Linked DNA regions of Homo sapiens. The protein of the gene in region 1 interacts with the protein of each later gene in a biochemical or structural test. Each region holds a gene or a part of one and is shown on either strand. Other genes may lie near its edges. The genes, in order: ST13 and CTRC.

Region 1 (7,277 bases):
CTACCCTCAATATAGAATTTAGAGTGTAGCAACCAATTTTTTGTACATGTGTACAAATAACCATAGCACAAAGCAGATTAGAAGGTTATCAAATTAAGAGAAATGTGAATGAAGTTTTATGTGGTCCTATGTGAGAAAAGTCTCTACACTGGTCCTACTTGATTGTGTAACATAAAAAAGCCTGTAGTGCCAAAGTCTAAGTGGCAGTTTTTGGCCAGAAAGTAGCTTGTTCTAAGCCTTGGAAGCATTAATTGAAATTTCGTACCTATGAGTTGGTGTTTTCTTCCATTAGTTAACTAGAATTTGGGATGGGAGAAACTAAATCTAGCTTATGAGTAAATCCTCTTTTTTTTTTAAAGTTTTTATTTTTTTTGCAACAATTTCTAGCTCAGAAAAATTGCAGGTATGGTACAAAGGAATTTTTTCTGAACTAGTTGAGAGTAAGCTGCCAACATTATACCCCAACACCAGTGAGTGTGTACTTCCTACAAAGTCTTTACAATGCAAATACTAAACTTAGGAAACTAATGCTGATGCATTTATGCTATCTAATCCTCAGATTTATGTGTTGCATTTAGTTGCCATGTCACGTAGTCTCCATTCTGAAACAGTTCCTCAGTCTTTCCTTGACTTTCATGATCTTAACAGTTTGAATGTTATTGGCAAGTTATTTTATAGACTTTCAATTTGGGTTTGTCTGGCCTTCCCTTAGGATTGGATTTAGCTTAATACATTTCTTGGCAGGAATATCACTTCCCAAAGTTAGTGTACTGTAAGTTATACTATGTCTGGATGTCACTCTAAATACATTCCTGACGCTGCATTTTGAAACTTAGGAAGAACACAGTGTAAGAAACCCTGTGTCTTCATTAAAATTTAACTACAAAGGACTGGTGATTACTGTGCTCTTTTGCAAAGTAGTGTTTCCATAGAAAAGAATTTTGTGGTGTCTATATGCCTGTTCCTTATCATTAAATCATTTTACTTTGCTGAATTGCAGATTAGGATGTTTTGGATCATATAATCTTTATGTTTGACATGGGAGCTATTCCATATTAAGGGTACTGTGTAACATTTTCTTCTATCATATTAAACATAATGGAAAAAGTAGGCACATTTTCTTCGTTTGAATGGTGCTTATAAGAAATTCCAAATTCTGTTTCTTTTCATTCCATCTGCTACTTTGCATTTATACTTTTGCTTCATATTGGGATTCTCAGATGATACTAAGGGAGTGAAAAGGCAACCTACAGGGTGGGAGAAAATATTTGCAACACATAAAGCTGACAAAGGGTTCATATGCAGAATACAGACAACACCTTCAAATAAAGAAGGACAATCTATTAGAAAGCTGGATGAGAGTTGAACTGTACAAAAAAGTCTTTTTAAATGACCAGTAAATATATGAAAAGGGACTCAACTGCAATGAGATGCCAGTAGGCACCTATCAGAATGGCTAAAAAATCTTTAAGATGGACAATAGCTAAGCATTGGCCAAGGCGTGAAACAATTGGAATTCTCATACATTGCTGATAAAAGTGTAAATTGATAAAAGAACTTCAGAAAACTGATGCCCATTTAAATTCAGCCTGCACATACCCTTATGACCACAAATTCCACCCAACTGAAATGAATGTAAGTGTGGATATGACAACTCTAGTTACAAAGAATCAGGCCGGGCGCAGTGGTTCATGCCTGTAAATCCAGCACTTTGGGAGGCCAAGGCTGGCGGATTACGAGGTCAGGAGATCGAGACCGTTCTGGCTAACATGGTGAAACCCTGTCTCTACTAAAACAAAAAATCAGCTGGGTGTGATGGCATGCACCCTGTAGTCCCAGCTACTTGGGAGGCTGAGGCAGGAGAATCGCTTGAACCCAGGAGGTGGAGGTTGCAGTGAGCCAAGATTGTGCCACTGCACTCCAGCCTGGGTGACAGAGCAAGACTCCATCTCAAAAAAAAAAAAAAAGAACCCTTTCTGTTTTCAAAGTTAATATATCCCCTTGTTTTACATAGTTAATGGCTTTTGTTGTTTGTTTTTAAGGCAAATTTTAATAATGTCTACGTTGCTTCCAACTGTTGTGGAGTGCTCTTAAGTCTATCAACCATTTTAGTCACTGGATTGTTGCAGGTAGCCCATATACTATAGGGTCTGCACCAAATGGAGCATGTAACGCTAATTCTTTGTAATTTTTCTCTTCTAGTTATTTGCTTATAATGAATTGTGTTGCCCTGAACTATTTGGGAAAGAAGAGTTTGTAGGGTCAGGAGGAAGTATTAATGGATGAGGTTGGGAGGGGTGTATAAGGAGAAAATCTATAATGTGATGGGCATGCAAATATAAGCAAGAAAAATTCTCATAGGTCTCAGTCACAGGACACAAACATTTTGAATTATATCATGACGGTATAGTTACTTCATAAACTGCATATTTGAATTTAATTGAACTCTTATTTCAAGTTTCAAATTTAGGATTCAGATATACCTACTGAGTTGAATTCTAAGTTAACAGCTTGTGCAAATGATTTTGTCATTGCATGTTGACATATCTGCCTCTTTTCCTCTGGGAAGAGGCACAGAGAAGCTATACATTATGTTTATTTGACTCATTGAGGCAAAGAAAGGGGTTCATTAGCCAGTAGCCTTAAAATAAATTTTAAGCTGGAAAAAATTTAACCATAATAATACCACAGCATTCAGATTAATTGAGAGTTTACTTTTAAATTTTGAAAAGGTAGTCATCTAAATGTCTAACGTTATTTTTTAGGTGTAAATACGTTGCGTGACAGTGAATTTTAATTTTCTAAACAAATATCTTTTTTCTCATCTTCTTCAAGCATGGGTGGTAAAGTACCACCTGCTACTCAGAAAGCTAAATCAGAAGAAAATACCAAGGTAAGTTTTAATTTCATTTGTATGTTTTGTGATAAAGTACTATAAGATTTCTTAGGGGTTGTTTTTAAACTGCTGCTCTCCAGTTATCACTCCTGATTTCCCCAAGATCACTTGGAAATAAGACCTTTTAAGACCTCTTTATCTTTATAACTTTGTAGACCCGAATTCTCTGGATTCTGATTTAGAACTGAGAATTTAGGGTTGGATGTTCACTGTTTTAGAATACATGACAATAAAAGTTACATGTATGGCCTGTAAGTGGTAAGCTCCGTGATGGTGTGCATCCGTAGTCTTCATCATTGCCTTACAGTGTGTCATATGCATTGTAGGTACTTTATTTATTATTTGCAGAGTAAATGAAGTATCCCAGGTCAGTAATTTAATTTTTTTGCTCTACTACCTGAGTGATATTTGTGAGTGTGAATCATGGTGTTGGGTTAGCATATTTGCTTAAAGGACGTGTAAGATTAGGAGAAGGTTACCAGTAGCTGAAGTTGAGAGACAGATGAAGGGGAACATACATGTTTAAGAATGTTTTCTTTTATTTGTTTGTTTTTTCTTTCCTGAGACAAAGTCTCACTGTGTCACCCAGGTCTGAGTGCACTGGTACAATCTCGGCTCACTGCAACCTCAGCCTACTGGCTTCAAGCGATTCTCCTGTTTCAGTCTCCCGAGTATCTGGGATTACAGGTGCATCCCACCATGCCTGGCTAATTTTTCTATTTTTAGTAGAAATGGGGTTTCGCCATGTTGGCCAGGTGGGTCTCGAACTCCTGACCTCAACTGATCTCTCAGCCTCCCAAGGTGCTGGGACTAAGGCGTGAGCCACCATGCCTGGCCCAGAATGCTTTCTTCATAATTTTTTATTTCTCTCTTCTGCCTTCATATCTAAAAGGCTTTTTTTTTTTTTGCAAATTTTCTGATTAGCTGTCTTAAATCGACAAGAAAATAGCTGTTTTATTATTTAGAAACTTAAACATTGTTATCTATTTGGATCTTAAAGTGGAAGTTATGTCTATTAAGAAGGAGAATGCGAAAAGGTAAGCAAAAGCCCAAAAAGTAGTTACCTTTTTTTTAAAAGGACCATTTATCAGAGTGGTATTTTCTGAGCCCTAGATATTTTGCTATTTGGCAAATGTGTATGAAGGCAAAATTATATTTAACCTATGTGTCAGCTGAAAATTTTTTGTAAGAAAAACATTCTAAACTAGAATTATGGCTTGTCTTTTCTTTTCAATATATTCTAGAATACCTAGACTTTGCACATTTTATAGGGACTCAACAAATATTTTGTGACAAGGTAGGTTTTTGGTTCTAATTTTTTTTTTTTTTTTTTTTTTTTTGAGACAGAGTCTCACTCTGTTGCCCAGGCTGGAGTGCAGTGGTGCGATCTCTTGGCTCATTGCAAGCTCTGCCTCCCAGGTTCACGCCCTTCTCCTGCCTCAGCTTCCTGAGTAGCTGGGACTACAGGTGCCCACCACCACGTCCGGCTAATTTTTTTGTGTTTTTAGTGGAGAAGGGGTTTCACCATGTTAGCCAGGATGGTCTCAATCTCCTGACCTCGTGATCCACCCACCTCGGACTCCCAAAGTGCTGGAATTACAGGCATGAGCCACTGCGCCCTGCCTTGGTTCTAATTTTTTAAGTAACAGGGAAGCAACCTAAAAATGGTTAACAATATATGGTTGAGTGAATAGATGAAGGTAGGCTGATAATGGTATATAATTTACAAGATACACAGCGTTGTTAAATGCAAAAGGCAAAGGATAGAGTTGTTTCATATATAGAGAGACTATCCTGCAATGGGATATACAAGAAACCACACTGGTTATTTATAGGATGGGAAGAAAGTGTTGCTTTCTATATGTCGTGCACTTTTAAATTCTTTGAATTTTCATTGTTTATTATTGTAATTCCACAGGTTCTTATTTGCAGTTCCAAAACTCAAAAACCCTTGTAAAGATTTTTACTAAATTTGGCAATAAAATATAATGTGAGTGGACATGAGGCTATTTATAATCTCTAAACTGTTTATTGTCAATGTTCAAACTTTATTTTGAACAGTTGTTTTTTTATTTTTGAGACACAGTCTTGCTCTGTCGCCCAGGCTGGAGTGCAGTGGCATGATCTCAGCTCACTGCCACCTCCGCCTCCCAGGTTCAAGTGATTGTCCTGCCTCAGCCTCCCAAGTGGCTGGGATTACAAGCGGGCACCACCACGTCCGGCTAATTTGTATTTTTAGTAGAGATGGTTTCACCGTGTTGGCCAGGCTAGTCTTGAACTCCTAACCTCAAATGATCCACCCACCCCAGCCTCCCAAAGTGCTGGAATTCCAGGCATGAGCCGCCATGCCTGGCCATATTTGACAGTTTATACATAGATTTGTAGAAATTAGTATAAATATTCGGTATGTTATTAAATACTGATAGTACTGTTTGTCTTCCCTTTGCTAGGAAGAAAAACCTGATAGTAAGAAGGTGGAGGAAGACTTAAAGGCAGACGAACCATCAAGTGAGGAAAGTGATCTAGGTGAGGAGACGGTAGTTAGTTTGTATTTGAAAACCTATGATGTGATACTTTGTTGATTTTTATTAAAGTGACTTAAATCAGCACTGTGTAATAGAAATATAATGGCACATATGAAACTTAGAATGTTCTAGTAGTCACATTTTAGAAAGTAAAAGGAAACATGAAATAAATTCAGATATTAATGGCATATTGGTTGAAATATTGACATGTGTAATCAATATTTTTTTTTGTTTTTTTGTTCTTTTTGAGATGGAGTCGTGCTCTTGTCACCCAGACTGGAGTGCACTGGCACAATCTCGGCTCACTGCAACCTCCACCTCCCAGGTTTAAGCCATTCTCCTGCCTGAGCCTCCCGAGTAACTGGGATTAGAGGAACCTGCCACCACACTCGGCTAATTTTTATAATTTTAGTAAAGACGGGCTTTCACCATGTTGGCAAGGCTGGCCTCGAACTCCTGACCTCGTGATCCACCCACCTTGGCCTCCCAAAGTGCTGAGATTACAGGCGTGAGCCACTGCACCTGGCCTCAATATTTGTTAATAATTTATTTTGCTTCTTTTTTTAATAGCATTCAAACTCCAAAGGGTATTTTACACATGTGGCACCCCTCAATTCAGGTTTTACATTTTCATTGATAATAAATCAGACTTCATAATGTTTGTATTAGAAAAAGTTGGGTTACATATTAAAGTTGTTCTAAGCATACTTAAAAAGTTTTCTTTTTTTTTTTTTTTTTCTTTTTTTGAGACGGAGTCTCACTGTGTCGCCCAGGCTGGAGTGCAGCAGTGTGATCTCAGCTCACTGCAGCCTCCACCTCCCAGGTTCAATCAATTCTCATGCCTCAGCCTCCCTAGTAGCTGGGACTACAGGCGTGTGCCACCAGGCACGGCTAATTTTTGTATTTTTTTTTTTTTGTAGAGACAGGGTTTTGCCATGTTGCCATGTTGGTCAGGCTGGTCTTGAACTCCTGATCTCAGGTGATCCACCTGCCTTGGCCTCCAAAGTGTTTGGGATTACAGATGTGAGCCACCATGCCCAGCCAAAAGTTTTCCCATAACTGAATTGAGTGCCAAAAAATAGTATTTGTTTAGTTCTTACAACCATGTTGATAAAACTGGTTCATATTTAGAAGAGTAGTTATCTGTGCTATGAGTTTGGTTGGTTTTTTGGCCACAAATTGACTAAATTTCTTCATGAATTTGGAAGTCTCTTATATCACAGAACCTGAAGAAAAGTACTTGAAATGTTTTAAATTTTGAATCAGTTTTTTTTTGTTGTTTTTTTGGGGTTTTTTTGGAAGACTTGAGTTTCGCTCTGCCACCCAGGCTGGAGTGTGGTGGCACAGTTTCGGCTCACTGCAACCTCTCCCTCCTGGGTTCAAGCGAGTCTCCTGCCTCAGCCTCCTGAGTAGCTGGGACTACAGGCGTATGCCACCATGCCTGGCTAATTTTTTTGTATTTTCAGGAGAGACAGAGTTTCACCATGTTGGCCAGGCTGGTCTCAAACTCCTGACCTCGGGTGATCTGCCCGTCTTGGCCTCCCAGAGTTCTGGGATTACAGGTGTGAGCCACCACGCCTGGCCTGAATCAAATTATCTTTGATATCATTAGAGGTCTTACATTCTACTGGCAGTTGTTTGAGTGCTAAATTGAAGATCTTTTACTTTTTATAAAATGCCTCTTTAGTCTTACTTTCTACCAGTTTCTAAAACTACAATAAATTTTTTAACCAACTCTCCACCTAAAAGTGTTTTCTTTTTTGTATACAAATCAAACTTTGATAGACAAGCTTAGTTGCTGTTAAAAAATGGATTAAAATTTTTTTACCGTGTTAAAGGGCATAAACTTTGAGCTA
Region 2 (7,277 bases), on another chromosome or scaffold:
GGAGAATGGCGTGAACCTGGGAGGCGGAGCTTGCAGTGAGCCGAGATGGCACCACTGCACTACAGCCCAGGTGAGAGAGCGAGACTCTGTCTAAAAAAAAAAAAAAAAAATTAGCTGTGCATGGTGGTGCGTGCCTGTAATCCCAGCTACTTGGGAGGCTGAGGCAGAAGAATCACTTGAACCTGGGAGGTGGAGGTTGCAGTGAGCTGAGATTGTGCCACTGCACTCCAGCCTGGGCATCAGAGCAAGACTCCGTCTCAAAAAAAAAAAAAAAAAAAAGAAGAGGATAGGTGGGAATGAAGTTTAGATTAAGCAAACTTAAGAAGGACTACGTTCTGTACTTGGGTACCTTCTAGTCAAATTTTAAGACCAAGCTTGGGCATCATCACCTCCAGGAAGCCATCCTGGATTCCTCCCGCCAACTGACACTGCTTCAGGTGTCCTGTTTCTATGCTTCTGGTCTGTATTTCTGTTTTCAAATGTATACCAGGGAATTTAATGATCTATTTACTGGTCTGTCTCCTGCACAGCTGGGGTACCCCCATCCTGGATTCCCGGGTCTGGGTGGTGCTGGGCTCCCTGTAGCTCCCACTGCTTGTTGAGTAAGTCAAGTCTTTCCTGAGACTTGCCTTGGCATCATGGGGGTGTGGGAGTCACACCATGGTCCCCACTCCCAGGGGACAAAGTCTGGTGGAGAAAAGGGACAACTCTTGGGCCAGTCTGAGGTAGCTGCAGCCGAGGGCTCTCCAGCGAGGGGTCCAGAGGCTGGGCTGGGGGCACCCCCACAGAACAGGACATTCCCAGGAGCAGGCCAGGCCAGAGGCCCCTATCATCAGGGTCTGATCCCCCTGGCATGTCCCTCCCTGGACATTGGATCTCTCTCATCTCTGGCTGCCCCTGTCATCAGGGTCTGATCCCACTGGCATGTCCCTCCCTGGACACTGGGTCTATCTCATCTCTGGCTCCTCTTGGCCTCTTGTCAGCCTCAGGAGAACTCTCTTCTCCTGGATCAGGCATTGCCAGCTATCCCAACTCCTTCCTCTCTCTGGGCCTCAGTTTCCCCACTTGTCTAATGCAATGAAAGCATATCCAGCTCTGACCACTGTGATTCTGTGTGGAAACCATTGCCTTCTTCAAACGTATGTCTCCTGAGGATGATGCTGGGGTCTCTTCCTCTTCCTGTACCCTCATCATGCCCAGCACAGGACTGGACACAGGGGCTGGCTCACTAAACACTTCTCAAAGCAGAGAGCCCCTGCCAACAGCAGCCATGGGGTCTGTGCTGCGGGGTGGGGGTGGGGGGTCCCTGCTAGGGAGCCCCTTCCCCAGGAGTGGTTGTCCCTGAGCTTTGGCCATCCTCCTGTGGCCTGGTCTCTCTGGCCTGGGGGACGCTGCTTTTGGGGAGACCCTGTCTTCCACCTGCTGCTGGGGGGCTGTGAGGACCTGCCAGGCCCCTCGGTGGAGGTAGGATCGGAGAAGCGAGTGATTTCATCAGGGTCTCACCTGTTCGCAGCTTGTGAGATGGAGCGGGGAAGGTGTCTGATGCGTCCTTCACTCCCATCCCCTCCGGCTTCACGCAGGACTCCCTGGGCTCTCCACCCCAGCCCCCTGCCTCCCATTAATGCCCCAGGAGGCTCCTTCCTTGGCCCTCTCTCCCGGCCTCTGTTTCCCCACCTGTCTAATGCAGGGTGGGGGAAACTGGCTGAGTGGGGTCTCTCTTTGGCTCCATAGTGTGGAAAGGGGCAGCACCAGAGAGGAGGGAAGCAACAGAAGCTGCACAAATCAAGGATCCAGGTGGCCCGAGGAGAAGGAAGTTTATTGCTGTTGCAGGGACTCGCTGCCGCCGCTCCCAGCAACAAATCACAGCTGCATTTTCTGGAGGAGCAGAGAACAGTGTGAGAGACTCAGGGCTGTGCCACCTTCTAGGGTGGCACAGGGCTCTGCCCGGAGGGTGGGTCCATGGGGGCATGGCCAGCAGCCCCCGGCCTTCACATGCCAGCCTTGTCCCTGTTCAAGGGGTCTGAGGCCCTCAGCATTTCAGGCCACTGTGCAAATGGGTCTTGGAACACACTCTGTCCCCAATGGGGAAGCCCCCAGCCCAGGGTGACCCTCTGTTCCCCTACTCTCAAGATGAGAAATGGCCATCCACACCATCCCTCTCCTCTGCTGGGCCATACCCTCAGGGGGTCAGTTTTTGGGGGAGACTGGTGTGGGGCCTGGATGGGGACATAAGTGCTTGATGAAGGCAGTGAATGGATGGATGGAGGAGTCAATGACTGTTTCCTTATTGGCACCCAACTCAAGGCCTGCTACTGGAAGCACTCAACCAATATTACTTGAATGAGAGAGTGAATGTGTGAAGAAGTGCATGAATGAATCACTGAATGAGCAAATGAATGAGTGAATAAATGGATGAATGAGTAAATAAATGCATGAATGAATGAATACATGAATGAGTGAATGAATAAGTGAATAAATGAATGAATGAATGCATGAGTGAATGAATAAATGAATAAATACATGAATGAGTGACTGAATAAGTGAATAAATGAATGAATGCATGAATGAGTGAATAAATGCATGAATGAGTGAATAAATGAATGAATGAATAAACGCATGAATGAGTGAATGAGTGAGGGGATGGGTGAGTGAGGGGGAGGGGCTGACAGGTGCAGGGACAGCTGTGGAGGCAGCACCCACCTCGTTGATCCAGTCGATGTAGGCGGACACCCGGGTGTAGACTACCGGCTTCTTGCGGGTGTTGCAGCCCCGCCGGGAGCCAAAGCTGACGATGCCAAACACCTCCCAGGAACCGTTCTCCAACTGGCAGTTCAGTGGGCCACCGGAGTCCCCCTGCACCAGACCGGGAGGGCATAAGCCACCAGGCCCCCCCCCAGAGGAAGTCTTGGGAAGCAGGACTGGGTTGGGGTGGGGGATGTGGGTTGGCTTCTCAGCCTTAGTTAGTGGACAGATTTGGCCTCAGCCTGCCCATGGTGAGGGAGGCAGAGGAAATGTGGTTTGCGGCTGCCTTGGCCTTATTCTGGGAGGCCCTGGGGTGTCAGACTAGCTCTTGGTTTGCTGTGTGATCTTGGGATGATGTTAATCCTCTCCGTGCCTCAGTTTCCCTAGCTGTTCAGGTCTCCTTATCTAAGACTCTGTGAGCTACTCAGAGCAGTGAGGATGCAGGCAGCTGTGCTAGAGGCCTGGGAAGGTGAGGAAGGAGGGTGAGAATGGGGAGAGGGTTGTGTGTTTGAAAACAGGACATTCCCTGATTGTCTTAGATGTTTTATGGTTCTGGTCTCCCTGGACTGGTGGAGCAAATGCATGGAGGAACATGTGTAGAGACTTCAGTGAAGCCTCTTCTCTGTCCTTTAAACTCATTTAGTCCTAACCCTGTGAAGTGGTTACTGTAACTCCATTTTACAGATGGAAAAACTGAGGTCAGAGGTTCAACGGCCCTCCCAAGTTTACGTAGCTCATAAATGGTGGGACTGGGGCTTGAACTCAGATACTCGTGCTCAATGCTCATGCTCTCACCACAGTGATGGGGGGTGATGGGCTTACCCTGAGCCTGCTGGGCCCAGCCAGGGCTCGCTCAGTCTCCTCCCAGGAGAAGGGTTTGGTCCATCGCACCCCCCTTTGCCCACATCCACTTGGCCACTTGGAGTAGGGACAAGGTGCAGAACCTAGCCACTCACATTGCAGGCTGAGATGACGCCATCGCCCCCAGCGCACACCATGGTTTTCTTCACCCTGAAGCCCCACCAGTCAATCCTGGAGCACGTGGCGTGATCCACCACGGGCTGCAGGCCCTGCTGCAGCTTATCAGCAATGGGGCCGTTGGCTGGGGAGAGAGTGAGCAGTGACCAGGGAGGCAGCCGGGAAGCCCAGTCCAGCCCCTCCCCAGGCCTTCAGGGAGCAGATGCCTGGGACAGGACCCAGGGGAGCGCCGGCTGAGACAGTGTGCGGACCACACACCTGCCCTTCATCAAGAGGCAAGCCAAGGTCCCAGAGGGTCAGGAGCAGGCTGCCGGCAGAAGGAAGCTACAGTGTTGAGTTGAGTTGTCTTTAAGTTGGATTCTGGGGATTTAATTGTCAATAATTTCCTGTGGGTCTCTGTCTTTGCTGTCACCCATTAAAAAGCCTTTCTCACCCCCAAGATTTTCTATTTCTCTTTCTTTTTTTTTTTGATACATACAAGGTCTCACTCTGTTGCTCAGGCTGGACAGCAGTGGCAAGATCATAGCTCACTGCAGCCTCAAACCCCTGGGCTCAAATGATCCTCTCACCTCAGCCTCCTGAGTAGTTTGGGACTACAGGTACACACCACCATACACTGCTATTTAAAAATTTTTTTTTTGTAGAGGCAGGGTCTCACTATGTTGCCCAGGCTGGTCTTGAACTCCTGGCCTCAAGTGATCTTTCCTCCTCAGCTTCCTAAAATGTCGGGATTACAGGTGTGAGCCGCCACAGCTGACTTCTCCCCCAGGATTTTCTAAATAGTGATCTGCATTTTCTAAGTCTCCCATAGTTTCATGATTTGCATTTAACTTTTAATTCAGCTGGGACCTATTTGGGCATACGGTATACCACAGATGTCATCCCCTACCCCTAATGGTTTATTTTAGTTTATTTATGTGACACTTACTATGTGCCAAGTGCTGTTCTGAGCACTTGACAAATTCTAATTCGTCTAAACTTTACCACATCTCTCAGAGACCCTTGCTAGAGTGTCTGTCACATGGTATGTGCTTAGTAAATATTAGCTGTTATTGTTACAAAGTTTACAAAGACATGAAAATGTGAAGGCAAAAAGGCAAAGTGGTGGACAAATGTGGGTGACGTCCTGCTTCCTTCAGGAAGGCTCTCAGGATTTGCCAGGGACGATACTCACTCCAGAGGCGGCCCCAGCCGGTGACATAGCAGGGGTAGTCCTTGGGGAGCAGGGAGTCCTTCTCTGGCAGGCAGGCCACCTGGATGGTGTCACTCAGCTCCACATGCTCTGCAAGCTTGATGAGGGCAATATCATTGCTGGAATCCAAAGTGGAGAGGGTGAGTGGGCAGGAGGGCCCTGGCCCCACAAGCTCAGGCTAAGGGGCTCGGGCTGTGAGTTGGGAGTCAGGCCCAGGGTGCTCAGGGGTCCTTCACAAACATCCTGACTGCCAGCTTCTTCTTGGCCTTTGGGAATATCAGGACAAACGATTCACCATCTAACATGATCACCCGCACTGTTGACATAGCTTCTTCTCACATGTCATCACCTCGGGAAAGGGTTAACAGAGGGAGGTGAGAGTGGAAGTGTCCGAAACCACTGCTGGCTGTGGGTCCATTGAAACAGAGGCTATAGCAAGTTGAGAACTCTAATGCCAAAAGACGGCACTTGCAGATGCCAGTTTTAATATTTTCATGTTACAAGAATAAAAGCTGGCCGGCCCAGTCAGACCTGGTTTGATTCCTAGTTCTGCCACGAAGTGGGCTGTGTGGCCTGGGACACAGTTCTTAACCTCTCTGAGCCTTGGTTCTTTGTCCAGGGCTGTTGTGAGGATTACATAACAGATGGCATATAAAGTGTCTATTGCAATGTGGGCATACAGTAGGAACTCAATAAAGGTGAGCGCTGGCCCAGCCTCTGGAGAGACACTGTGGGGGGCCTTCCTTGTGGACTTTCCTGGGAGTCTTGGCCAATGAGGGGGATATGAGGGGGTATTTGTCTCCACTTAGCATTTTGCCATTTTGTGTAAGACAGTCATTTGCTGGCTTTCCAGGGTGAGGATGGGGTGTCAGGTATGGGGTGCGACAGGCTCTGCGGCTCCGTCTTGGGGACCCCTCCTTCCACACTGCCCCCAGTGGCTGTGGGATGGGCAGTCTGTCACTCACCGCAACAGGAGGGCATTCCATCTCTTGTGGACGTGGATGGTGTCCACACCCACAAACAGGGATCCTTCTTCGTCTTCCACCTCCAGGTTGTTCTTTCCCACGGCCACACGGTAGGTCCGGGTGTTGCTGGGCAGAGGAAGGGGTCCAGGTCAGGGTGGCCCCCTGGTCCTGCCAGCCAGTGGGATAGAGAGGGAGCTCGGGGCTTTAGTGGGACTCATTTTGGGGGAAGAGAGTGTTCCCATTGTCCTTTCCCAGGGTGAGGGGAAGGGCCTGGGACTTGGGGTCAAGGGACTTGGGTTCATGTTGTGACTTTGCTGCTCCTGGCTGTGTAGCCTTGTGCCTCAGTTCCCTCATCTGTAAGGGGGAGGCAATGCTGGAACTTACTCCCAGGGCGGCTGTGAGAATAAACTCATCCAAGCTTCCACCGCCCTTGCCTGCACAGTTGCGGCATCCATCTAACTATCTCTCACTTGTACGCTGGCCTACTCCTGTCTATTCTGAACCCAGCAGTGTGGGTTTAAAAATATCTCCGGCCAGGTGCGTTGGCTCATGCCTGTAATCCCAGCACGTTGGGAAGCCGAGACGGGGGGATTGCTTGAGGCCAGGAGTTTGAGACCAGCCTGAGCCACATGGCAAATCCCCATCTCTACAAAAAATAGAAAACTTATGGTGAGGTTTGGGCTTCTAAGTTAAAAAACAAACAAACAAACAAAAAACAAGAAGAAAAATTAGCTGGGAATGCGTGGTGGCGTGTGCTTATAGACCCAGCTACTCGGGAGGCTAAGGTGGGAGGATTGCTTGAGCTCAGGAGGTCAAGGCTACAGTGAACCATGATGGTACCACTAAATGAGACTCTGTCTCTACCAAAAAAAAAAAAAGTGTATATGAAATATATAAAATGAAATATGTTGCAATATATATTTTTTATAAAATATATTAAAAATATTTTATGGAATATATAAAAATATGTCAGCCCACAACTCTCCTTTGCTCAGAAACCCTTCCAATAGCTCCATCTTACTCAGGGTCAAAGCCAAGGTCCTGATACTGACCTGCACTTATTTCCTCTCTAGCTCACCTCCCACTCTCCTCTAGCACACGCTGCCCCTGCCACACCGGCTTCCGCGTTATTTCTCAACCATACTGACAGGTCTCTCCTCCAAGGCTTTGCATGGCTGTTCCCTCCGCCTGGAACACCCTTCTCCTAGATCCATGATTTCCTCCCTCACTTCCTTCAGGCCTTTGCCCAAATAACCCCCTTTTAGCTCTCCGAAATGTCCCAAATATTTGCCAAATATCCCCCTTTCAGCTCTTCCCCTGGCCATCCCTTTTAAAACTGAACCCCTCATTCTGTTTGTCCTCTTCTGACCTTATTTTTATTTTTTATTTTTTTGAGACAG

What was found.
Region 2: of the proteins of ST13 (region 1) and CTRC, one has a biochemical effect on the other in vitro, tested with the Homo sapiens proteins (one study listed by BioGRID).

The regions. Positions count from the first base shown.
Region 1 is NC_000022.11:40,846,439-40,853,715, reverse strand, and holds part of ST13 (hsc70-interacting protein), read left to right. Parts: intron 1-2,835; coding exon 2,836-2,893; intron 2,894-5,346; coding exon 5,347-5,422; intron 5,423-7,277. UniProt on the Homo sapiens protein: One HIP oligomer binds the ATPase domains of at least two HSC70 molecules dependent on activation of the HSC70 ATPase by HSP40. Stabilizes the ADP state of HSC70 that has a high affinity for substrate protein.
Region 2 is NC_000001.11:15,441,173-15,448,449, reverse strand, and holds part of CTRC (chymotrypsin-C preproprotein), read right to left. Parts: intron 6,004-7,277; coding exon 5,878-6,003; intron 5,032-5,877; coding exon 4,895-5,031; intron 3,845-4,894; coding exon 3,699-3,844; intron 2,854-3,698; coding exon 2,701-2,853; intron 1,876-2,700; coding exon 1,861-1,875; coding exon of another isoform or gene 1,679-1,860; 3' UTR 1-1,678.